Homo sapiens: one gene and its partners. The gene in region 4 interacts genetically with the main gene of each other region. Each region holds a gene or a part of one and is shown on either strand. Other genes may lie near its edges. The genes, in order: SGMS2, CMTR2, JTB and PTAR1.

Region 1 (7,033 bases), on a different chromosome or scaffold from region 4:
CTAAGGTTTTAAAAGTCTTGCAAATTAACCTTCAAGTAGCTAAGAAATTAAGCCAAGAATTATCCAAAAGATCCAATAGCATTAAATAATGCACTAAATCTGGTAACATTAAATCTGATCAGATTTTTTAATCCATTTTTTGGCATCACCTTAAAGAAATTTAGAAACAGTTATCCCCCTTCACTGTATAGCTGTAACTAACACACTGATTCCGAGAGTATATTATAGTGCAGCACCATGTTATTTTCATAGGGTAAAAGTAAAATTACTCAATTGCGGCATATGTCCTTAGGACTAGTTATAAGAAACTGAGTCTCTTGCTAAAAGCAAGGATACATTAACTTTCAGGTTCCATCTTGGTTTTTCCATAAAGTACAACAGAAAAAGGAAGAAATCACCTTCAATGAAATTTGACCAAATACATTTCTGTGCTCCAATTAGGAGCCCTAAAATTGATCTCACACCAGGGCCTGACCTGGAAAGAAAACAGGCTCATTCCCCAAGTGGTGTGAACCTCAGTTGACACACACGTGTTTTCAGCCTGTGCTAGAAGAGTTGACTGCCCTGGGGCACCAGATCCAAATTTACAGGGCAGACAGCATCTAAGTGTGTACTCAAGGGCCACTCATTAGCAGAAACCATCTCATGTTTCCTGTGTATCTGTCATAGAGATTTTAAAGTGAAACATTTACACACATGTAAAATCTGTGGGGTGTGTCAAATACTTTCGTGTTTACTTGGATCAGCTTTCCTTTTTAAGATAAAATGATCTTTTAAAAACAAAACAAAACAAAACAAAAAAAAGTGATATGTAGCGCATTGGGTGGCAGCAGCAGTGTGCACTCCTGGACTCAACCCGAACTTTCCCCGTGACAGGGTAGAAACAAAATTCACCCAAAGCTGACGCACAACCCACGGATCTCCCCCTTGCTAAACCTAATGCTAAAAACCACTCTCAACATTAGGCAGTTCTATTTACACAGTGGCTGTAGATGTCCAGATATTTTATTTAAAATATTAACACATTCTTCTGACCTTGGGCTGAAAAATATCCTGAAAAAATTCTGAAGTAGAGGGTTTTGGTGGAGAAAGAATAAAGAAAGGAGGAATATGTTCTTTGGCACCTCTTTAACAAGCTCATTAGTAAAGTCCCGGGGTGGGGGCTTGTCACCAATGAATGAAGAGCTGCAAGAGAATGTATCTTTCTCAGGATGAAGAAGAAAACCAGTCAAAGGGCAATACTTTGTTCATCTTTCTAATCGTTTACACAAAATTTGGTCCATTTCTTCATTTACCAGTCAGTTCTCCTAAAATAAAAAACAAAACTATACCTTTGGTTACAGCGTTAACTCTTTTGGTGTAAGAGCTGATGCCTTTGTTTTGCTCCTCAGGTCGATTTCTCATTGTCTTCACCAATCTTCTGAACCCGTGAATACTTTTTGCATGATGATTTGAAGCAGCCAGGAGGCCAAGACAGCGGCCAGGAGAAGCAGCAAGGAATTGAGCCTTGTACATTTTTCTCAAAAAAATAAAAGATGGGGAACCACCATGCTCGAGATAAGAAATTAGTCTGTGAAGAGACCTTCAAGTTCTGTAAATGGTAGAAAAAAATTTAAATGAGACATATCTTTCTCAATTTGCATCCCAATTATTTTCTTAAATTGTCATTCACTGTAACCTAGGGAAAACAGAATTCAGAATCACATGGCAGTAATGATTTTCATGTCCTTTCCCTAACTCTACCATGACTCCGCTCCCCTAACACACCTAGGTGTCTTTCTTTCCTTTGTGGCTCATGCAATTTCTTCTGCCTGCAATTCCAGTAAGAATGGAGACTCTGGGAATGGATTTCAGAATTATTCAGGAGGAATAATTTTCAGGATGTGTGAGTGATCAAATCTAGGGGCCAAGCAAGTCAAAGAGTGAAAGAAGAGCTCAGAAGTTGAACACATTTAAGAGGAAAGATGAAAATTTTGGTTCAGTGGTGTCAGTAGTCAACTAGATGGAAGTGTAAGAAGGAAGATGGAAATGGGAGACTACAAAATAGGAAACAGAGCTACAAAGAGAAATAAAGTAATCCAAAGAAAGAGCATTTATTAGTGGACACCAAGAGTTGGACGTAGATCCTTTGGAAATGTAATATTTCAATTGCTCACAAATTCTCCAAATTGACAATATGGCAAGTCTATTCAAAGATAAGTAAGTCATGGTACACAGACCAACTCTATTACACCAAGGACACATACCAAGACTAGGAGAAAAGAGAGACTGGGAGGAATAATTCTGCCTTCGGACCAGAGGAAGAGAGCAAGAGTTAGAGACAGCTTCCTGGAAGAGGTGGCATTTGAGCTAGCTCTTTAAGTTTCAATGGGAGAAGAAAGAAAAGGCATCTGGAAACAAGGAAGCAGCAGTAGCAAATGAGGAAGAATCAGAAGGGAAGCCAGAGAGCACCATTATCACCAGAGGATATACCAAATCCAGTCATTCATAAGCTATTTATTTTGTGTGATTTTAAACAATAGCTGCTATCGGCTGGGCACGGTGGTTCACGCCTATAATCCTGGCACTTTGGGAGGCCGAGGTGGGAGGATCACCTGAGGTCAGGAGTTCAAGGCCAGCCTGGCCAACATGGTGAAACCCTGTCTCTACTAAAAATACAAAATAAAAATTAGCCAGGCGTGGTGTCGTGCACCTGTAATCCCAGCTATTTGGGAGGCTGAGGCACAAGAATCGCTTGAACTTGGAAGGTGGAGGTTGCAGTAAGCCAAGATTGCACCACTGTACTCCAGCTTGGGCAATAGAACAAGACTCTGTCTCAAAAAAAAAAAAAATTAAAAAAAATAGCTGTTACCTTCTCCTTAAAATTAATTTAAGTTGAAGGCAGGATTATGTCTTACCCAGCTGCACTACAATGCTTTTACAGAGAAGGTTCCTAAATTTTAATTTAGTACATATATTTTTTCATTCTAGTTTAAGTTACCTGAATTAGCAATGCACTGTGCTCCATAACTTTATGGCATTTTTATCCATAAATGGCATTTATATTTGTGAAGTTCTTTGCTTTATTTTAAAAAGCAGTAATGGATATATGTTTAAGTGAATGTGGCAACATCGGTTATCCCCATTAGGCTATCTAAAACCCCACGACATGAAAAGGGTCCACTGCATTCAAAGAAAAGAAATTATCCAAGCATCTTCACTGCTCTCACCTTTTCATTGGCCATTGAATGGTACCACCAAAACAGTCGTGTTGTGATATAATAAGCAATGATCACATCGATAGTGTAGTGTTCGTGTGCTACAAGAATGCAGATGATCCCGGCAGCACTCAGCAGCCAGCAGATTAAATGATACCACCAGAAGTGACGAGGCGAATCTGGACAGTAGAAAAATTACAGAGTTAATAAGATTCCCAGAGATGAATGTAATGATTACAGTCTGTCCTAACGACCTTAAGTAGAATAACCCAGGATCAGGAAGTCACCAGAAGGATAAAACTGATAACCTAAACTGAGTCACTATGAACTGCCCAGGATCTGCTCAGGTAGGAGGGAGGCAGAGGGGCTCCCTGGCAGCGGGCGTAATAGTCATTCACTGGGGAAGCTGGTAACACTAGACATTCTAGGCCTTACCCACGTGAATAAGCTGTTTAGTAAGAAAGAACAGAATTGTTTCTTATTAGGTTTGCTGGAATTGCTGCATACTGGCTCACATAAAGGAGCCACTTTCCCACTGGAAAGAAAGATAGTAGGGATCAAAAGAAAAGGTGGTGGTCTATGAAAATAAGGGGGGAAATGGGAAAGCAGGAGTAATTTCAGGTTTTAAATTTATATTATTTCTCCAGGGGTATGTGTAGGGTAAGGGGGTCAGAAGGAATGGCATTGTGGCTAGCAATATTTTGATTCTCAGCAATTTTACACTGTTATTGCCAATAGAAACTATAAAACATTCCCTCTGTAAAGGTTAGGGTTCCTAACCATTCACTTATGGACTCAGCCTTCCTGGTAAAGCCACTTAAAAGTTCATTCTACTTACTAGCTGTAAGAGACAACTGTGGCACTCACTGGTTTAAACATGATGGTCCTCCCCTTCTCACACAAGTGTTAATGACAAATATAACTGAAACCAGAGTTCATCTCTAGCAGCTTGGTGATCTGTTTTATTTTAAAGCTGTATTAGCTCACAATAAAAGTTAATCCAATAAACTGAAATTGATTTCATATTTAACTATGTTTACATTTATAGTGATATTTACATTCACATGTAGAAAGATGATTGAATAGCAAAAGGATCCATTTCCAGAACTTTATATTTATTTATTTATTTTTTGAGAGGGAGTTTCGCTCTTGTCGCCCATGCTGGAGTTCAATGGCACGATCTTGGCTCACTGCAACCTCTGTCCCCTGGGTTCAAGCGATTCTCCTCCTTTAGCCTCCCGAGTAGCTGGGATTACAGGGGTGCGCCATTATGCCTGGCTAATTTTGTATTATTAGTAGAGATGGGGTTTCACCATGTTGGCCAGGCTGGTCTTGAACTCCTGACCTCAGGTGACCTGCCTGCCTCAGCCTCCCAAAGTGCTGGGATTATAGGCATGGGCCACTGCGCCCAGCCCATTTCCAGAACTTTAAATGAAATACCAAATCAGGTATCATTCAAATATAATCTCTTGGTAAAACTAGCCGTTGCTCTGTTGGTCCCAAATGGCACACAGTAAGAAAATAAACCTGTATGGCATTTGAAAGTCTGATTTTCTAATTTTGGATATATTCCTTATTACTTGTCAGTTACTTCATTCTGCCACTAAGTTCTGGAAGAAAACTCATGGAATCTCAGAATTTTAATGGGAGAGGCCTTACTCTTGCAGTCTTAGGAGCCAGATCCAGTCCCCATAACTGTTGTGTTAGACTCAGGACATTAAAAATTGAATGAACATTGAGAAATCTGGAGGTCTCACTAAATATGCGTTTCCCAGCACCTCAGACCCTACCCGCCTCCCACCCCCAAGGTCTCTTAGCAACCCTGCTTCCCAACTTACAGGTCATCTGGGATTTACCTTAGAAGTTCAAAATGTTTAGGCAAACTAGAACTATTTTGCATTTGTTTATTCACAAGAAGCAAAGTTGAAGTAGGTCCAGAGGTGGCCTGAATCTTCTTTTTACTACTCACGGAATTGCAAGTGAGGTTTTAGGAACGGCTGGAAACCCCAGCAGTGCTTTCTCATAAAAATGTATTTCCTGTTATGCTACCACATTGGGCCCACCACTCATTAACTGAGAACACTGGCTGACCCAAAGAAAAGATTGAATAGAAGCTGTTTTGAAATAGAATGGCAAAATGGTAATCCTCTTCTCATTCATCCCATAGGGATAACAATGAGCTAGATGATGACACAAATAATAGCTAACATCACTGTCTGTGTGGAATTCTAGCCCTAGGGCTCATTAAATAATAGAGACTTGGTAGGGTGGCCAGGTGAAAAAACAAAAAACCAAAAAACTGTTCTCTACTAGCCAGATGATTGGCACTAACAGCTAGTCTGATTTCTCCAGGCTAATTTTATCATGAACCTACCCCCCAATTATAATATTTGCACGACTGTATGAAGCCCTCCCTTGCTAACCCCGAAATGGTCCTGGTGCCACATCTTCATGTGCTCTCACAACTAAATTTAAATCTACTCATGACAACAGAGCAAACAAGGAAAAGAGCCCAAACTGATCAAAAGGCGGGAAAGTAAAAAAATATATATATAAATGATACATCTAATTCTAGAAGCAGACTTTTCAAAGAAACCACTGGAACCACTGCTTACTCAGAACAAGAACATATGGTATAATTTAGAAGATAAATGTTTTTCCTAATTGCATAGAAAAAAACAGACACAAACATGGAATGCTCTGCTTACATACAGAACTGACTATAAACTGAGTTTGTGTTAAGTATTACAGATTTGTCCCTCTATTTCTAATCAAATATTGGAGAAAGCAGAATGGTATTCCTTGCACACTATATATAAATGTACACAATTTTAGAAACCTCTAGTCAAAATCATGTCTTGGGAAAAAATGTCTCTACATACTGAGAGGCCTTCATTAAAGTATAAAATCAATCACAAGTTGCCTTGCTGTTGCTCTGAGATGAAAGAATGTACAATAATGAGCAATGTCCCTGCTTATAGATAAGTAGACTATTCCTTGGCAATACGATAGAGTTAGCCAGCTTGAATTTCCAAAGTTCTAAACAGAGCCAAGAAATTAAAAGCAAAACCCCTGGATTCAGCCTCCTTCAACATGAATACCTGCTTCTCAAAATGATGGCTCTGCACTGTGGCCAAGTCACTTTCTCTAAGCTTAAGTTTACTCATCTGAAAAATGGGAAAAAATACTGCATTCCTCAGAGGGTGGTTGTAAGGATCAAATGAGTTAATTTACATCAAGGCCCTAGAATAGTGCCTGGGACAGAGTATTATGTCTATTTGCTATTATTGTTTATGAGGTTTGGCAGTGTCCCCACCCAAATCTCATCTTGAATTGTAGCTCCCATAATTCTCATGTGCTGTGGGAGGGACCTGGTGGGAAATAACTGAATCATGGGGGTGGTTTCCCCCATACTGTTCTTGTGGTAGTGAAATAAGTCTCACAAGAGCTGATGGTTTTATAAGGGGAAACCCCTTTTGCTTCGTTCTCATTTTCTCGTCTGCTGCCATGTAAAACATGCCTTTTGCCTTCCACCATGATTGTGAGGCCTCCTCAGCCACGTGGAACTGTGAGTCCACTAAACCACTTTTTCTTTATAAATTACCCAGTCTTGGTTATGTCTTTATCAACAGTGTGAAAACAGACTAATACAGTTAATATCAGTTGGTTTTCAGTTATTTTAGAAAACTGAATCTAAGTTTCCTGGGGGTGTTTTTATTACTTTAAACCTACAGTGCCTTCACTCTGAAATGCACCTCTTCCCCCACCTCCACCCTCATCCCCATCTTCTTCTGTAATTTTTTTATGATCCTCAGATTATAGAGAAGATCCTAAAC
Region 2 (5,544 bases), on a different chromosome or scaffold from region 4:
TGCAATTTTATATAAACTAAAAAATGCATTAGAGGCTCAAAATAATAACCCATATACATCTATTGAGCATTATTCTTTTAATTACATGTCCTAAAACATACCTACATACTATGAGTTACCATACGTAGTATCAAGCTTTGAGTTTACTTGCTACTTGGCCCATTAGGCCAACCCTAAAAAATGCTTACCATTGAAATGGAAATTCATTTTCCATTTCAATATTGAATTTGAAATATTCATATTTTGTTCCATATTGAAATTTTTGCTTTATATTGAGTTCTGCTCCTAAGATCAGTCCGAAATGTTTTATCCAGCTTTTTTTTTAAAGGTGTGGGAAGCCTATTATAAAATAATTGAGTCTCTCTTTTCAGTGTCAACTATGTAGTAAACAAATTTGCAGCCAAGTCTTGCATATCTGTCCCATCTCGATATAATAATTTGTCATCATTTTAAGAGTATAATACTTACACTAAGTGTATGTTTTGTTCAAATTAAACAGATTACAAAGGAAACAATTTGATGTTTGTTTTTTAATAGATATTACAAATTAAAAATCTCAAAACCTGTGGAAAAAAGTTTTTAAGAACAGTCTACCTTGGTAAAACATGCATACTCTCACCTCTTCCTGTCTTCTTCTACTTTTCCATTCATCTTTTGAATAGCATTTTTCCTCTCCTTTCTCTTAAAGAGAAACTCATATAAATCATTAGTACCTGTCATCTATTAATATATCCAGTTCAATCTGAACCTTCCTCAAGTCATGTCTAACCTCTAAAGCAATTTGAATCCAATGAATCAGATGAGCAATTGATTCCAAAACCCACGTTAAAAAGCAAAATACATTTGAGAATACTTCAGTGTTATATATTCCAGTACAGATTAGTGTCAACAAAACACTAAGCATTCAATACTTATTTGAAGGGCTTAAAGACAGTAATAATGCTAGAATCTGGACCCATGCCTTCAACTTCATTCTTATCAAATAGTTAAAATAAGTAAAAAATAAGCTGCATTATTAGTATATTGAATCCCACTTAGCAAGGCATAAAGACTATTAAGTGCAAAATGGTTTTCCAAGAGTGTTTTTTTTTTTCCTCCTGGTAATCAACCTTCTGTCAGACTTCCATCGTCATACAACTGGAATTGCTTCCATAGAGTCACCAGTAGGAAATCAGATTTCTTTCAAAAATCTACTTCCAGGCCTCCACACACTCCTCTTCCAATCCCCCTTAAGTATTCAATTTCTTTCCTGAAGTAGGCCTTCCATAAGTATTACAATATTAAGGACTAAATTTTAATGAATGCAAATCAGAGAAAATGAAAGAACATTAACTATCATTCAAAACTCCCTTTAAAAATGTCTGTTTCCAACTTATATTTTTAACTTCTCCCATAATTCCATTTAAAAAAGATGAACACAAAATCTCTCTAGTAATGACTTTATTCATGAATCTATAATGGAATTCAAAATAGCAAAGAACATGAAAATGTTCAGATTAATATTTATTAACCAAATGCATCAGAAAATACATCTATTTTCACATATCAAAAGTGCCTAAAATGCATGTGAGAATATAAATATTCTCCACTTTGTGGAACTTCAAGATAATGAAAAATTGCTTAATACACTTTGCCACAAAAACTCATTACACTGCAAATACAGAAGAAATAAAATAACTCATTACATTGCAGATACAAAAGAAATCAAATGTAACTGGCAAAATAACCATTTCATGGCTAATCTTTTGGTAAAGTGCTATTTTCACACTGAAAAAAAGAAATTAGAAAAGATTAAAAATTTTAAATTCTGAACCATCATTCTGAAAGTCTGAAGCGTTTTCTTTAGTATTCACTATGTTCATCACATTCATGTGTTCCCAACATGAGACTAAACACTATCTCAAAATCTTAAAAAATCTTTCCATTCACAGATTATTTCCTGGAAGTTAAAAATTATTACATCATTGCTAAATGAAGCTTTTCACAATACAGGCGTGTATTAGATACAACAAATAATTTTTCATTGTTCTAAACATGATCTTTGGTTTAAAGCTGTCCCGTTATATTTTTATAGTTGGATGGTGTGGTCAGTAAAAGATTCATACAACAGCATACTAGTTTTATTTGAGCCATGTAAGAAAATAGGGTCAATCACCTAAGGGCAATGAATGGCATGTTATCAAGAATCTGGCGAGATGAATTCCCTGAAATTCATAACTGATGTGTTAACGGAAATCAGTGTTGCTGAACAGTGATTTACTCATTTCCTTTCCTCAATTACCTCTCTCAATTCATTAACAACATTAACCAATGAGAGGAAATTAGTTGGAAAATTCACTAACAGCATTAGCCACTAAGAGGAAATCGGCTGGAAAAAAAAAACTAATCTGAACAAAGGTACACAGATGCAAATCTTAAGCAGATTAAGTAAGACCAACTAAATGGCATAGGTAAGCATGGCTGTGGCCACCCATACACATACACACACCTCATATTTAGAGTGTGAATATCTATCATTGCATAGATTCCACCACGTGGAAGAGCTCTATGCCTGTGGGTGTATATACCCTAGAGATCAGAATGGATGGTTTTCCAGAATTAATGAGACTTTGAATGATGCAAATGTTGGCCTTTCCCCAAAATAAAAGGTTTTTAAATTAATAGAGCAACAGGATGCAAATACTGGGCAAATTATAAGAAATCATAAAGTTGAATCTCAGAAAGCATATGTTCAGTTTTGTAACTGAAGGCTGTTGATAATTTCTTCTCTCTCTCTTTGAATAATGAAATGCAAATGCCTTTTAGCAATGGCAGCATTCAAATCCCACAAAAAATCAAGCAGGGCCCCCTTAAGGAGTACCTCCATTGGCACAAACTGTAAAACCTGCTGGGGTGAGTCAGAGTTGAGCAAAGTGCTCAACAATTCATTCACACTCTGCAAATATCGGAAAACTGGATTTGGAAGGTCCTGATAACCAACACATAGCAGGACTGCGCAGGTCCTCAGGGGATCAGAGGATGTGGGACAAACAAAAGTGATGAATCTAAAACAACTGTGGAGTACAAAGATCAAACCAGCCATAAATCTTGTGAAGCAAGAAAGTACAGGCAAAATCATAACATCTCCTGTATGAAGCTCCCGCAATGAATGTAGAAGGCAGTCCAAAAATAAACGCTGGTAAGTTGGATCTCCATCATGAAGCAATGAACAGCTAAAAGTTGTGAGTTCAGCTGATTCTAGGAGTCGAACTTCCAACGGTATATGCATTTTGATATTACGGAGAGTCGAAAAGCCCACCAGCAGGCACTTTATTTGATTGCTGGGTACTACAACCTGCTCATCCTGAAGGCACTCAGTAAGGCTACACAACTCGGAAAATATCAGTTCTTCAGAAAAAACATGACAAGAACAAGAATACTGCTGTTTTGGCCTAAACTTGGAATCCAAATTAAAAGCTCCTCCTAATGACTTTTCAATTGCTTCATTAAGAGTTTTTAAAATTTCACCATTGCAAAAAGGAGAACATTTTACCTTTGGCAGTTTCTTTCCCTCCAAAATATGCCATAAGTGACACTCAAGATTGGAAGCTGTTCCTTCTAAAATAGAACTCTGCCCAGGATGATATACACCATGTTCTTCAGCCCAACTATTAAAGTATCCTTTGGCTACTTTATCTTTCCATGAAAGGGCTTCTAGCATCTTCCTTTCATTATAAGTTTTAAAATATTTGTTCCTCTGCCCAAACCATTTTGTATTTGTACTACAACCAATACTAGATTTTTTTACTAGCCAATTATTTCTGGAAAGATGTTTCAGTTGAAATTTTTGCATAAAATATTGTATAGCACAATCCCTTAAATTATTCAGCTTTTCTTGTTCCGCCTTTCCCATGCACTCAAATAGACGAATGTTTTCAGAAATAGTCTCTAGCTGATATTTATGAAAGAACACACAACATTCTTCATGTCTCTTAAGAAAAGAATCAGGAATCACATGATGGGGAAAAAGGGCTTTCCTTTTCATTTCAGTCCCAAAATTCAAGGTCATCTTAGATAACAGAGGATGGATGGCCTCTCTCCCCTTATAGTGGAGGCAAACCACATAGACTTCGGAGTTTCCTGCCTTGCTAGTAGCAGGTTTGAAAACATGGACTTGGTCAAAACAACAGTTTAGCAGGTACATCAAGTTTATGGAACAATGTTCAAACATAGTAAACATCTTTAGAACAAAAGAGCCACCGTTTCCAAGAGTGGTCAGAGCAGTGACAACTTCACAGTAATGCAAAGAAGAAACTAAAGCTTCTTGTTCACCTGGGTTTCCTTGGCAATCAAAACTCCCATCTGCAGTGACCAAGTGAACAGTAGCCATGCTGCTTATGAAATTCTGAAGTCCAGTCAAGAATTTCAGGGTCATGATATCACCAGTGTTATCTGGACCAAAGTACCACCAGTGCAAGGTATTTGCAATAAGCCGGTCATCCATAATCATCATGAGGTCGTCATTTGCTTCATGGTATGGATTCAGAGTATTCGCTACCCAACTCCAATGACAAGGAAACCGATGGGATTTTAAGTAGTGGTTGAGACTAGCTATAAAAGCTCCTGGAGCTTCACAAAGGTGTAGAGAATTCAGTTTTCCATTCTGAAAAGCTTCCTGTGGAATAAGTGGAAAGCTGCACAAAATCTCATGGAACTTACACCATGCTTGAGTACAAAGTTCAGCATTCACAGATTTTCTAACATGAGAAATGATTTTCCCCGCTTTATTAGTGAAAGCAGTGTGCTCATGCCACTCATCCAGTTTCTTATCACTCAGTAGGTTTTTTACTTCATTTAGGGAGTTCTTCAAATCAAGAAATGCATTAAGTTCAGTGTGGTCACAGGTGAAAATCTCACTGGGATCTGGTAACTGCCACTCATTATTAAGTGGCTTGCCATAAGAAAAGTTCTTGGCAAAGAGTTCAAAAATGTCAGCAAGAATATCTGGGCTGAATGACGCGGGACTTGCTAGCTGCTGAACTGGTGTCTTTCTGCACTTACTCATTTTCAAATCAAATTAAAATCTAGGAAGAGAAAACACATAATTAAATGAATCAAATTTATTAGTGAGCGAAATCTCATGAGCAGCAAATACGATCACACTCATGACAAACTCCATAAAATGGGAAGGCTAAAGTCAGCATACTCTGTTATTTAACCAAGTAATCTGGAATAATGAAAAAGGCTTTGATATCCAAGACCTGGGTTCAAATTCCAGCTCTGCTAATTATGGCTTAATAAGCACCCTTGGGCAAATTCCATCTCTTGGATTTGGTTTCTTCTCATTAAAAAAAAAAGCCTATCATTTTTTAAGAAGAAGATAAAACATACTAGCATATAAAAAACATATAACAAAGCATAATCATCAGTGAATGACAGCTCTGATTATCATAGTAACCCATCTAACTCTTCCCCAAAGTTCTTCCCTACCAATGACTGTGACAACACCTACATGACCTCAAACAAATCCATCCTTAGAGATTCATCCCTGGACATGACCTTTGT
Region 3 (7,027 bases), on a different chromosome or scaffold from region 4:
AGACCCAGGATACAAGGGTGGAATGTAGCTATATGGACTCGATTTGCTTCCGGACCTTTTCCAGAGCCTTTCTGTCCAATTGTCGCTGACGAATGATGACAAGACAAGCGAAGATCAGGGCCACACACACGACAGCCCCTTCGAACTTCCAAAATAAGCGTTGTTCCATCAAAGCTGAGCGGCAGCTGAGGGCAGGAAGGAATAGTTATTCCCAAGGAAGGCCAGACAGCTTCTCCCTCTAATTTCCCTTCTACTTCAGCCTAGCCAGGATACACTCAAGAGGAAATCAGAGCCAGGCTTCTATTGTGTGTATAGTACATAAATCCCTCTCAAATAGATCATTTAATTTATTCTCTGGATAAGCAGAGCTAGTATTAACCAATTTTACTGATGAGAAAATATGGCCAATAACATAGTGCTGAGGAGTAGAGCTGGGACTTGGGTTCAAGTAATTTGGCTCCAAATCCCGTCTTCTTTCTTATTATTTTTGAGATGGTGTCTCGCTCTGTCACCCAGACTGGAGTGCAGTGGCGTGACCTTGGCTCACTGCAACCTCCACCTCCCGGGTTTAAGCAGTTTTCTGCTTCAGCCTCCCAAGTAGCTGGGATTACAGGTGCCCGCCATCATGCCCAGCTAATTTTTGTATCTTTAAGAGAGATGAGGTTTCACCATCTTGGCCAGGCTGGTCTTGAACTCCTAACCTCGTGATCCACCCGCCTCGGCCTCCCAAAGTGCTGGGATTACAGGCGTGAGCCACCCCTCCCAGCCTCTTTTTTTTTTTTTTTTTTTTGACACACAGTCTCGCTCCATTGCCCAGGCTGGAGTGCAGTGGCATGATCTTGGCTCACTCTAACCTCTGCCTCCTGGGTTCAAGTGATTCTCCCTGCCTCAGCCTCCCAAGTAGCTGGGATTATGGGCACCCACCACACCAGCTAATTTTTGTATTTTTAGTAGAGATGGGGTTTCACCACGTTGGCCAGGCTGATCTCGAACTCCTGACCTCAGGTGATCTGTTAGCCTCAGCCTCCCTAAGTACTGGGATTATAGGTGTGAGCCCGGCCCCCTCTTCTTTCAGATATTCCATGCTACCCCCAGACCAGGGGAAAAGGTGGGACCATCCATCTAAAGTCATAGGAGCAAAGGAGGTGATCTCAGAGAAGAGAAACAGCACTCACCTTTTGAACTCATTTCTCTTAGATGAGCTGCATGTGATTTTCTCTACATATCCTGTGGGACCACACTCAGGGGTAGTTTTCTGCCAGGAGAAAAGGAGCAAAGTACATGTTAGGAAGGGGCAACAGGATAAACAAAAAGGCTGCCATTCAGAAGGTGCAGGTGCCCAACTGCTATGGTTTGGAGTGGTAGGCAACAGAGAGCTAATGAAAGAGTTCTGATGCGGATGGTGGAGGTGGTGGTTGCATGATTACGAATGTATGTTAGAACACTTCAGGGGCAACAGTCTAGGAGTGGCAAAGATACATTCCATTCCAGAGCCTACTATACTAAAAGTGAATAAAACATAGTTATTTGAGGCCGGGTGTGGCGGCTCACGCCTATAATCCCAGCACTTTGGGAGGCCGAGGCGGGCAGATCACGAGGTAAGGAGTTAGAGACTAGCCTGGCCAACACAGTGAAACCCGAGTCTACTAAAAATACAAAAATTAGCCAGGCATGGTGCAACGCGCCTTTAGTCACAGCTACTCAGGAGGCTGAGGCAGGAGAATCGCTTGAACCCGGGAGGCGGAGGTTGTGGTGAGCCGAGATCTCGCCACTGCACTCCAGCCTGGGCAACAGAGTGAGACTCCGTCTCAAAAACAAACAAAAAAACCATAGTTATCAGTTGAATACTGCCATTAGCTTGGAAAGAAAGGGGCACATTTTCAGGGGAAAGACAAGTACAGATTTGGACATACACTGAGACTGCAAGAAGAAAGAAAAAAAGATGATGCAAAGGCAGCTTAATAAGACTTGGATGTTAAGATGTTGCTTAAGTGTTTGCTTAGATGTTTAAAAAAAAAAAGGGTAGAGAAATAGATACTCACAGCCCGGAAATTAGAGCATGGAGAGCACTCTTCTGCTACCACAAACTCTTCCACCAGCCAGCATGGCAAATTTGAGGTGCTTGCTGAAAGGAAAGATAAATGCCAGCCCCAGGCCATTCAGAAAACATTTCTCCCAGGCTCTGCCCATCCAACTTCCCGGCACAGCGCTTGCCCTCATTCCATGTGGTGCCGGCCTTTTCCACCTGTGCTCTTGGTATATGGGGAAGATACTAAAACCAAAAACAAACGACGGGACGTGTCGGGTTCCCAGACAATCACCCACCTGACAGCTTCTCTTCCTGCACGGGAGCCTCTGCTTGGCTGTAGCGGAGTTGGGGGAAGGGACAAAAGTCAAAACCCAGAAAATAGGGCACCCCCTCCTGCGCTGTCCATGGATAAGATCTCCCCCAGCCCCGAGGCCGGGAACGATCCTGTCCTCCAGTGACCTCCTTTTCCCTCCCCTTACCTCCTCCTTACCAGAGCTTTAAGGTGAAAGCACAGAGCAACCAGCAGAGGTGGCGGCCCTGGGGGAGGCCAGGCCTCCCGGCACCCGCAAGCATGGAGCGCCAAGTGTCGCACCTGTCGGAACAGAGGGACCTACTCCACAGGCCTCGTGCCTCCGTCGGAGCGCAGAGGCGGCACTTACTCTGCAGCCCTCCCAGAGGTTCCAGGTCAGGGCAGGGAAGGCCGGAGTTGCCTATTGGAGCAGAGGATCTATCAGGACGTCCCCGTTGCCACAGCGAGAAAAATCGATATGTTTTTGCGGGCTAGGGAGGCGAGCGCCTTCTGCGGGGTCCGCAGGGCGCTGGAGGAAGGGCCGGCGGGGGCTCGCGGCCCTAGCGCCCGCTCACCTCCGCTCCCGCCCCCGACGCAGCCATCTAGCCCCGTGGAGGATCCTCGGGCGCGGGACCGAGCTCGGGGCCCGGTGTTCCCGGGGGCGTTCGGTCGTCGCCCGCTGGGGCTTATAGTCTTCCGCGTCGGTGGCGCCTCGCCTGCTGCTCACTGGGAATTAGCTCGGCGCCCCGTTGCATTGTGGTCTTGGTAGTCTTTGCGAGAACGGCAAATGGCGGTTGCAGAGGCTCGTCCGAATTCTCGGCTCGCTGCTCCCTGGCTGGCGCGTGTTTGTTCATTCTGGGCTAGGTGAGCAGGGACAATACGTCGCCCTCTCAGGACTTTGCTCTCTCCTTAAAACCCGAGGATTCACCGTCAAGCTTCTGGTTTCTCTGACATCCTTCCCCAGCCGCCCCTTCATCGCCACCGATGATCCAGTGGAGAAGCTGTGTTGGAGGTCAAGGGATGGAGGCGAAACTGCGCGTTCTCGTCCCTGCAGAAACCGGAATATCCGAGACACATGACGAACATGAAACTTTCTCCTTGTCTCTTGGCTCCCACTCCGCTACACAGATGAACGGTGTTACCTTCCCTCATGTTACTTTGCTAAGCCTACTCCTCAGAGCTGGTCCTTTGCATAACCTCTTCAAATGCTCTCAACTCTCCCTTGCTCCTACATAATGGAGTAATCATAAGTGCAATGAGAAAAGCATGAGATTTGAAGTTCCATAAGTATTGAGTCTAGGTTCTGGTGGTTATTAACTCCATGATCTTAGGAAAGTATCTGTCAGTGTTCTGTGTAAAACGGAAATGCTAATGTGTATTTACCAGGACTTTTTCTTGCGAGAGGCAGATGAAATGTATCTCCGTTTCATGAGTAAGTTCAGAGAATATAAGTGACTTGTCCAAGGTCAGCAAGCTAATGAGTGGGAAAGCTGAGGCTTGAGCCTAGACTGTCAACACCCAGGCCAAAGATTCATTGCCTGCTTTTCATCTTATGGAGTTAAACCTTGATACACACTCAGATCTGCAGTGACTTGACCAGCACTGTGGGTTCATGCTTTACTGTCTGATAACGAATTTTCATTTAATTTTATTTTTTTTCTTAGACAGGGTCTAGCTCTGTCACCTAAACCTGATGAGGGCTGAGCCTTCATTTCGCCGTTTTTTGTTTGTTTGTTTTTGTTTTTGAACGAGATGGACTCTGGCTATGTTGCCAGACTGGAGTGCAGTGGCAAGTCACAGGAGCCATCATAGCGCATTACAGCCTGGAACTTCTCGTCTTCAGGGATCCTCCCAAGTAGCTGGGATTTCAGGCATGTGCCACCATACCTGGCTCTAATTTTGAATTTGTTTCTTTAAATTATTATTTGTGTTTGCTGAAATTGTGTGTGTATTATTTTTGTGTATGTGTGTGAGTAGTTATATGTTACATAAAGTAGGTTGTGGGGTTTTTTCCAGTAATGTTTAGCTATAATTGAAGTTTGGGCCGAAATCTGCTAGTATTTGTTACTCCTCACCAAATCCTACCTTATCTCACAACAAACTGTAAGATCTTGTGATATTTCACTTCCAATAACCTTACCAGGCATCAGAGTGGGGTCTCTACTCTGAAATTAAATATCTGCCATAAGGTATGTTGAAGACGTTAGTCTCTTTCCCAGGAGGCACAAAGTGCAAGTCTTTTCCTCATCGCTTGAGCAAATTAAACCTACCGGACAGTTTACTACAGAACTCAAACACAGCTGGGCGCAGTGGCTCACGCCTGTAATCCCAGCAATTTGGGAGGCCGAGGTGGGCGGATCACCTGAGGTCGGGAGTTCAAGACCAGCCTGACCAACATGGAGAAACCCCGTCTCCACTAAAAATACAGAATTAGCTGGGCATGGTGCCATATGCCTGTAATCCCAGGTACTCGTGAGGCTGAGGCAGGAGAATCACTTGAACCCGGGAGGTAGAGGTTGCGGTGAGCCGAGATCACACCATTGTACTCCAGCCTGGGCAACAAGAGCAAGAATTCATCTCAAAAGAAAAAAAAAAGAACTTAAGCATAAGCCACAAATAAGGTTTATCATTACCTCATCAATGCTTGGATACTTACATTTATCAAGTTATTACATTTTGCTGTGTAAAAAATATTATGTATGGTGAAAGGGGGATATATATATATTATGTATTAAAATATGTATTATATATTATATATTAAACATAATATAATTATATATAATTATATATTAAACATAATATATTATATATTAAATATATAATTATAATATATATTTAATATATATGTATAATATATAATTATATATTATATATAATATGTTATATGTTTATAAACATATACATGTTATATATATTATATATTTCCTATATATTTAATATATAATATATATAATTATACATTGTAATATATAATATAATATAATATATATATACTTAAGGATGCTGTGCATCAAGCCTGAATTTTTTTTTTTTTTTTGAGATGGAGTTTCGCTCTGTCTCCAGGCTGGAGTGTAATGGTGCGAACTCTGCTCACAGTAACCTCTGCCTCCTAGGTTCAAGCGATTCTCCTCCCTCAGCCTCCCAAGTAGCTGGTATTACAGGCACCCACCACCATGCCCAGCTAATTTTTTTTGTATTTTTAGTAGAGATGGGGTTTCGCCATGTTGGCCAGGCTGGTCTCAAACTCCCAACCTGAAGTGATCCACCCACCTCGGCCTCCCAAAGTGCTGGGACTACAGGCATGAAACAACGTGCTCGGCCCAAGCCTGAATTTTCTTTTGCATTTCCAGTAGTTTTGCCATCTTTGTTATTCAGCAAAGAGATGTTTTTGTTTTCGTTTTTGTTTTTTTGAGACAGAGTCTGGCTGTGTCACCCAGGCTGGAGTGCAGTGGTGTGATCTCAACTCACTGCAACCTCTGCCTCCCAGGTTCAAGTGAGTCTCCTGCCTCAGCCTCCCAAGTAGCTGGGACTACAGGCGCCCTCCACCACTCCTGTCTAATTTTTTTTTTTTTTTGTATTTTTAGTAGAGACGGGGTTTCACTATGCTGGCCAGGCTGGTCTTGAACTCCTGTTGTGATCCACCACGCCCAGCCAAAGAGCTGTTTTTGTTAAAGTTTGCTTGTCCCAGGCTGGGCGCAGTGGCTCACGCCTGTAACCCCAGCACTTTGGGAGACTGAGGCAGACTGATCACTCGAGCCCAGGCGTTCAAGACCAGCCTGGCCAACATGACAAAACCCTGTCTCCACTAAAAACACAAAAGTTAGCCAGGTGTGGTGGCACGTGCCTGTAATCCCAGCTACTCGGGAGGCTGAGGCAGGAGAATCGCTTGAACCCGGGAGGCAGAGGTTGCAGTGAGCTGGGATCGTGCCACTGCACTCCAGTCTGGGCGACAGAGCCACACTCGGTCTTAAAAAAGAAAAAAAGTCCTTGTCCCTCTGCTTGTAAGTACCACCAAAGGGCTATATTAACTGACTATTGGCCAGGCATGGTGGCTCACGCCTGTAATCCCAGCTACTTGAGAGGCTGAGGCAGGAGGCAGAGGTTGCAGTGAGCTGAGATCGCACTATTGCACTCCAGCCTCGGAGACAGAGCAAGACTCTGTCCCTAAAAATAAATGAATAAATAAATAAAATAACTGACCATTGTGCCTGGCACTTAGTAGATGCTCAATATACATATATGAATAAATGAACTTCTCATTTTCCTCACTAATAAAAGCAGATATTAATGCCTATCAAATAACTAAATGGATTGCTGGCAGAATCAAAGAAGCTTGCACAAATCACTGGATAAATCACTAGGTGCAGTTATTTCCCTGAGGCTAGGACTGTTAGAGTTCTTCTCGCTGGGAATTTCCTGTGCTCAGGACAAGGCTCTGCCCACAAGGGCATCCGGACCCCATGGCGGAAAGAGGATATCCAGACCTTCAGATCACTCTACCTCCTGCTCTTTGCTATTTTCCTTACCAACAGAACAGCTAGGGAAGAGACAGCAGTAGGATTAGTCCTGGTTCCACAGAAACCGAGCCTGATTTGGGTAAATCAATCACTTTGAAGACACAATAATTGGATTTGAGTGGAGAACAATTCTGACAATAATCCAAGTTACCCAAAACAGGAACATTTGTGCAAATGGTGGCCTTTAATACC
Region 4 (7,033 bases):
TTCAATGCTAATAAATACATTAAAAATTATATTAGGCTGCTGGGTGTGGTGGCTCATGCCTGTAATCCCAGCACTTTGGGAGGCAGAGGCAGGTGGATTGCTTGAGGTCAGGAGTTCAAGACCAGCCTGACCAACATGGCGAAACCCCGTCTCTACTAAAAATATAAAAATTAGCTGGGCGTGGTAGTGGGTGCCTGTAATCCCAGCTACTTGGGAGGCTGAGGCAGGAGAATCGCTTGAACCTGGGAAGCGGAGGTTGCAGTGAGCTGAGATTGTGCCACTGCACTCCAGCCTGGGCGACAGAGCAAAACCCTGTCTCAAAAATAAATAAATAAATAATAATATTAGGCCTACCCTAATATAACCTATTGTGAATATTTTCCTTTAAATCATCTTCCAAAATATACATTTTAGTCATAACAAAATATTCCAATGTGATGGATTGTAATCTAACAATTCCCTCATTATTGAAGGGCTACAGCTTTTCTAGTTTTTCACTACTATAAATGCTACTTTTATATATCAAACTTCTATATTTAATAGCCAGTGTTTATTGAGCACTTAATTAAGGCACTTTGATAGCCACTTTATATGAATCCTCCCTTTCAATTTGCATCACTCAGTGAGATGGGAATTATTGTCACCCTCCTTTTCCGGATGAGAAAACTGAAGGTTGAAGAGGCTAAGCAACTTCCTCAAGGCTACACAGCAAATTGGTGGTAAAGCCAGAATGCAAAGCAGGTCTGCATGACCACTGAGTGAAGCTTCTAATCATTCTACCATACTTCATCTTCCATTATTTCTTTATGATGAATTCCTGGAAGCAGAACTCTTAAAAATAACACCCTATTTTTAAAAGTGTGATAAGTGCTGCCATGTTGCCCTTCAGTAAGCTTATAACAATTTGAATAATGCTCATTTTCATACTCTTACTAATACTCGATGCCAGCACTTTAAAAAGTCATTTTCAATTTCCTAAGTTAAAAAATGCTGGCTCATTTCATATATATTTTTAAGCTGATTTAGACTACTGGTATTTTTGTGATTACCTCCTGTAACAGACAAAGCATAGTAGTAAATGTTCTAGGTGGGCCCAATGGCTTATAACAACAGAAAGGGGATTTTGCAAATTTAGGACTCCTCACTGACAACAAGAGCAAGAGATGTTGCAGTGGCAAGTGGTGAATGGAAGAATGGTAAGTCTTCCTCCAAGGGCGGGTCAAGGAAGGATGATGACATCTGAACCCAGGAGTGGACCCTGGCAGCTGAGCTCACCATTAATGAGTTATAACTCACCATTAATGAGTTATCTTTACCACCAGATGGTCTCAAGTAACCAAAAATTTCACTTTGGCCCCTTGTTCCTGATTTTATGGAAATGCCACTTGTAAAGGTCCACATCATGGCAGAAAAATTTCCAAAGATCTCTCAGTCAACCTGGACTCCGCCTTCCTTTTTATCCCCAATCCTCCCCATATCTCTTTCCTCTTCCCACACACTATCAAGTCATGGATCTGAGATGACCACCAAGCACTCCATATCCCTGACAACCCACCAAACAACTTGTAATCATGCCTCCCAACTCAATGTATCTTCCTTCCCCCGGCAGCTATTTCCAACGAGCGCATCCTAGATGAAGAACGATTTTTCTGTGCTCCCATTGTATTCTGATGCTTTGTAATTGTTGGTCTACTTTCTCAACTAGATTTTCAATTTGTTGAGAGCAAACACTTTGTTTTACTGCGTATACAGGACAGTCGGTGGGTATGATAGGGTTTTATACTTTTTCATCAATAAATTGCACGGAGTTGATCAAGCAAACTGGTAGCCAATTTTCTATCTCTGGAGAACAGAGAAAGGAACTAAAATCGAGTGAATCTCTCTCTATTAGATGCCCAGTAATTTACATCCATTAACTCAATTAACTCTCACAATAATCCACTGAGGCAGACAGTAGAGTCCCTATTTTATAAATGAAAACAATAAAACCTTGCTTTCCACATATAGGTAGTGGGGCCAAAATCTGAACCTAGGTTGATGTGATTCTGAGCCTTGGTTCTTTCTATTCCATTAGGCGGCCACCCCTCCTGAAACTCAAAGCCATGTAAACTGAATGGGGAAGGCTTCTCTTCCAGAATTATTGGCTTAAAATCCTCTGGAAGTAAAAAGTCTCCCATTTGCCCTGGCCAGGAAACAAAGAGAGAAATGGGAGCATGGGAAGAGGGATGTAGGAAGAAGAGGGTGGTAAGTTAAAATTACATAACACTTCCCCACTTATCTGAAAGCATCACCTGGGGCACTTCAATCTTCAACTTGACCTCTTTTAACTGTCTCAAGCCTGAGAAGCTTTTTAGATGAGCACCCTAGATTCTTATGGCACTGTGACGCCATCAGAAAAGAAAAAACTGAGACACCGTAGTATATAAGGAGCAAAAGGGACATGTGGCTCTCATTCTGATGAATAATAAGTGGTACAACTGTAGCTAAGTCTAAGCCATTAAAATTCTCTGGAAATCTCCATCTCCTCATTTCTAAACTGAAAGGATTAGGCTGTGAGAGTTTCCAAACTGGCTCTGCATTCAAATAACCCTGAGTCAGTGGAAAATACTGATCTCTAGATCCACCCTCATTCTGCTTTAGTAGGCTTGGAGTGGAACTTAGGAATCCCCAGGTAATTTATAGGCTCAGCCAATTTTAAAAACACCTGGGTGAGATTGTCTATCCCTGCCCTCCTCTCCCCCTTTTCAGAGGACGAGAGTGTGAAAAGACAGCCAGCTGACTTAGTATATTGTCACATAACCAAACACTACCAAGAAATAGCAATTCCAGTTCTATAAGGCTTAATAATCCCTTCCTGTTTCAGGATAAAGTGAGTTATGCTCAATCTTCCTCAGTTGGTTAAACCTGCCTTGCTTTACCAATGCACTAGCCTTAAGACTGCCAAAAACAGCACTAGTGGGGAATGCAAGCTTTTTATTTAATTACAGGGTTCCTCCAGAGGTAGCAGCTGTTGCGATTCTCTCAAGTTGCCAGACCATCAGTTTCTCTACTCCTTCAAAGCTCTTCTGAGAATGAACTACTACCAGAAGATTTTAAGGGCAGACAGGCAGTCTGCCCAGGAGACAGTAATATTCCTACCTTGACATCTAGCTTGGCCAAGTGCTGTAAAACCCAGATGCGATGGGACCAAGCATTATAGTTGCTTGGGTATCTCCCTGCTGCTTCACCACAGACCTCCATCTCTTCTTGTATGAGTCGCTGTGCCCTTTCTGTGGGAATTGTTCCCAAGTTTCCTTTGGTCACAAAGGAAGGCAAGGAGGTTTCCTGAATTAGCTGTTGTAGCACCCATCGCCTGTTAAGGCAGCATGTGGGAAAGAGAACACAGAAAGAACATAAACCAGAGAGAAAAATAACCAGTTTTCATTGTTCCTAATTTAATTTCCATTCAGAGACAATGCAAAATAATACCTGTTTATAAGTCTAGTATTTTGGAGATGGGGAGGGGTTGTTTTGTTGTTTATGATGATACTAATTTAGCAGTATGGATGAAGGGTGGAAAATGGATAAACAGGAAAAAAAAAAAACTTTAAAATCTGTAATACAGAGAATGTCATTACTTCTAAAATGACAATCCCAAAACTCCACTTGGCCAGGAAATGTAAAGGCAATTGGTGTGTGTGTGTGTGGTCGTGGTGAGAGGTCATAAATTAATGGCTGATAAATATTATAAGGAGTCATGATTCACATCTTTAAGTATATATGCATGCCTCACCCTATGTGCATTTGTTTGCAAACAAGAAGCTGCATTCTGATAGCTTTCATTCAGCAAAATTCTGTATTATAGCATAAAATCTGGAAGGTAACAAATATAATTCATTAAACCATTAAGAAGGTGTCAAAATATCCTTATCCACAAATTCTCCCTTTGTCTGTTTAAGATTTGCATTAACATGTATTTACATAAAAAACACTAAATAGTGTTTCGAGCTACTTAATGTGTTTACTTTGTACCAGTAATTTACTTATATAAAAGCATTTTTTAGACTAAAGATTTCAAACCCAAAGGTACAGGAAATTAAGTAAGAAAACTCACTTTGTCATTTTAAAATAATGGAATTTCTTATTTAACAACAAAATATTGCTTGATAAAAAAAATTAGACAAGCCAAACTGATGGATGCATATTTAACAGTTCCTTTCCCCTGCCACCATCCCTTTCCAAACCCCCATACACACAGTCATATACCCTTCTGTGGTATACTATCTCAATTTCTGGTGATGAAGAAAATATAACTGACTATGTGGTTTGGAAGAAGCTGACCTGCAATGTTAACTAAAGGCACGATTACCACTAAGACACCTGGAACGGACATAAGATCCTAAAAATGCCCACGATTTAAGAAAAATTAGAGTGGCTTAATAAACTGAGAATTTCAGAGTGACTTCTTCATTGGTCCTGACTAGCAAGCCCACACCATCCCATTTTGGTCAAATAAGAGTAGTTACACAGGGTCCAAGAGGAAGATGGTTCCAGGTGGCCAGGATTTTGAGAGTCCTAAAGTGCATTCTGGCTATCTGTCCCATGCTTTTAACCTAAAAATGTTCTTTGTATGTATGGATTTTAGCAACTTTAGCTCAGCCTACACAGCATTCGCTTCAGCTGCCCTCAGCTTTCTCTGTAAGTTAATTTTAATAACCACAACCATCACCACCAACATCTTTACCAGGAAAACAACCAAATGCTTTTAAAATCCATATTGCTCATTACAGTTGAGTATCTATAAATGCAATGCCCACAACTGCTTCAAAGAGTTAATAATAGCTAACATTTATTGAGTATTTAATATGTGCCAGGCACTGTGGGAGTGTTACATGCATTAACTCACGTAAACTTGACTGTTAACTATATGAGACAGGTGTAATTATTATTCTCATTTTACAAATGAGAAAACTGAGGCTTGGTGAGTTAAGTAATTTCCCATGAACACTTAGGTAGCAAGTTATATAGCTCCTAGATTTAAATGTAGGTAACCTGACTTCAGAATTCATGCTCTGGAACCAATAAGTAACCTTGCCTCTCACATGTCATGTTTCTTTCTCCAGCCAGTCTGAATCCTAAGTAAGAGTACTATGTTGTAAATTAACCACACCTGTGAATCCATGTTTCTGGACTCTTTGGAAACTTGGTTAAGGCGAGTTTTCCCAGATGTAAATCCTTAATTGGATTTAAAGTGCCAGAGAGGATCAGCTCTTTCCTGTAAAAAAAAAAAAAAAAAAAAAAAAAAATTAAACATTACTTTATCCTTATATCCAAAGGTTCTACATGGCTTTTAATATAATCTCATTGTGAAGCGAATGTCTAAGAATTTTAAAACAAAAAAAGAAAGAAAAAAAGCCCAAGCCACTCTGGGATATAAAACACTCATAAATGTGACATGCAGTAATCAAGAATGTATTCTCATAATCCCAATATAACAAACTAATAAGCAGAAAGAGAAGCTCTTAAATCAACAGATTTTAACGATTTTTAAATCTTAACTATTTGCGTGAGGGTAAATGGGGTTTTCTGGCCTATCTCATTTCCAAAAGTTGTGAGACCTGATATCGTACCTATAGGGCCAATCCAATACCAGCCAAAATTGGTCTAGTTTCCTAAATAGGACTTGACATGGTCTATTTCATTACAAAACCACACATACAACAAACACAATATGGTTGAGATGTAAGGGAAAAAAAAATCATTCATGGAATCACTATTCTAACCAAATTACTATTTTTTATTTTTGAATTTTCCCTTCTACTTTTCCCTATCACACATACATTTTAACATATAATTTTACATCCTGCTCTCATTATATCTTAAGAATTTCCCCATGATTCTATATAATCTTTGTAATGAACATTTTAAATGATCAAATTAGTTTTCATTTAGAAGCTATGCTTTTCCCTTCTTGTTAGACATTTAGGTTGCGTCAAACTTTTTGTTATTTTAAAACAAATCTGGGCAGGGGAAGCTTTGTGCTTATAACTTCTTTCTTTTGTATTCTTACTTTGGATAAGTTTCCAAAAGAGCTATTAACAAGGTAAAATACTTACATGACCCTTGATATACGAGGCCATTCCTTTTTAAAATATTAATATAAGCAGCAGAAGTAATAGCAATGTAATGTTTTGGTTGTTTTTAAAACTGTTCAAGCCCAACCAAAGCTTCAATGCAATCAGTTGTCCCTTGGTATCTTGTGGGGGCTTGGTTCAGGACCTCCCAAGGATACCAAAATCTGCGAATGCTCAAGTCCTTGATATAAAATGTGTTGCCATATAACCTACACACATCCTCCCATATACTTCATATCATCTCTAGATTACTTATAATACCTAATACAATGTAAATGCTATATAAATAGTTGTTACATTATTCAGGGACTAATGATAGGAAAACAAAGTCTGAACATGTTCGCTACAGAAAGCAATTTTTTCCCCAAATATTTTCTATCTGCGGTTGGTTGAATCCATGGATGCAGAACCTACAGATACAGAGGGCCAACTATATAAAGAATGTCATGCAAGAGCTTTCTATACCTGTTTCTCAGGTAAATACAATTTACATTTAATTTCTCAGGTAAGTTTTTGATAAGTGCTGATATTACACTCTCACTGAATTCTCAATGTATCTATAATTTTATAATAAAATCAGATCATTTGTTATTATTTATCTTAAAATGTCCTTCCTGTGTAGGGCTGATTATTCATTTATTTTAGAGAAGTTTAAGCCAGAGAAAACCAGAATCCAGCTCTTATACCATATCTACTTAGACGGACTTAATTCCTAAATACCACAATACATTTTCTTTCCAACAGTGACATACTATTTATAAAGTTTTATTTGATAAAGAAAACAACTATTTTCCTTTCAATGTTCAGGAAACCAATTTGTCATTATATATATATAATATATATATAAAATATATATTTTTTTCTTGCAACAGCCAATTGCTTTTGCAGTCTTGGATTATTTTTCTTCTGAAATCAGTAAC

Evidence for each region.
Region 1: changes in PTAR1 (region 4) and SGMS2 are lethal when combined (synthetic lethality), as found in Homo sapiens cells (one study listed by BioGRID).
Region 2: changes in PTAR1 (region 4) and CMTR2 are lethal when combined (synthetic lethality), as found in Homo sapiens cells (one study listed by BioGRID).
Region 3: changes in PTAR1 (region 4) and JTB are lethal when combined (synthetic lethality), as found in Homo sapiens cells (one study listed by BioGRID).

The regions. Positions count from the first base shown.
Region 1 is NC_000004.12:107,904,908-107,911,940, reverse strand, and holds part of SGMS2 (phosphatidylcholine:ceramide cholinephosphotransferase 2), read right to left. Parts: exon of another isoform or gene 3,377-7,033; coding exon 3,210-3,376; exon of another isoform or gene 1,592-3,209; coding exon 1,388-1,591; 3' UTR 1-1,387. UniProt on the Homo sapiens protein: Sphingomyelin synthase that primarily contributes to sphingomyelin synthesis and homeostasis at the plasma membrane.
Region 2 is NC_000016.10:71,280,877-71,286,420, forward strand, and holds the end of CMTR2 (cap-specific mRNA (nucleoside-2'-O-)-methyltransferase 2), read right to left. Parts: intron 5,064-5,544; 5' UTR 5,045-5,063; coding exon 2,732-5,044; 3' UTR 516-2,731; downstream 1-515.
Region 3 is NC_000001.11:153,974,651-153,981,677, forward strand, and holds the start of JTB (protein JTB precursor), read right to left. Parts: upstream 3,025-7,027; 5' UTR 2,603-3,024; coding exon 2,520-2,602; intron 2,364-2,519; coding exon 2,326-2,363; intron 2,126-2,325; coding exon 2,043-2,125; intron 1,256-2,042; coding exon 1,176-1,255; intron 186-1,175; coding exon 29-185; 3' UTR 1-28. UniProt on the Homo sapiens protein: Required for normal cytokinesis during mitosis. Plays a role in the regulation of cell proliferation. May be a component of the chromosomal passenger complex (CPC), a complex that acts as a key regulator of mitosis.
Region 4 is NC_000009.12:69,729,001-69,736,033, forward strand, and holds part of PTAR1 (protein prenyltransferase alpha subunit repeat-containing protein 1), read right to left. Parts: intron 5,255-7,033; coding exon 5,150-5,254; intron 3,353-5,149; coding exon 3,139-3,352; intron 1-3,138.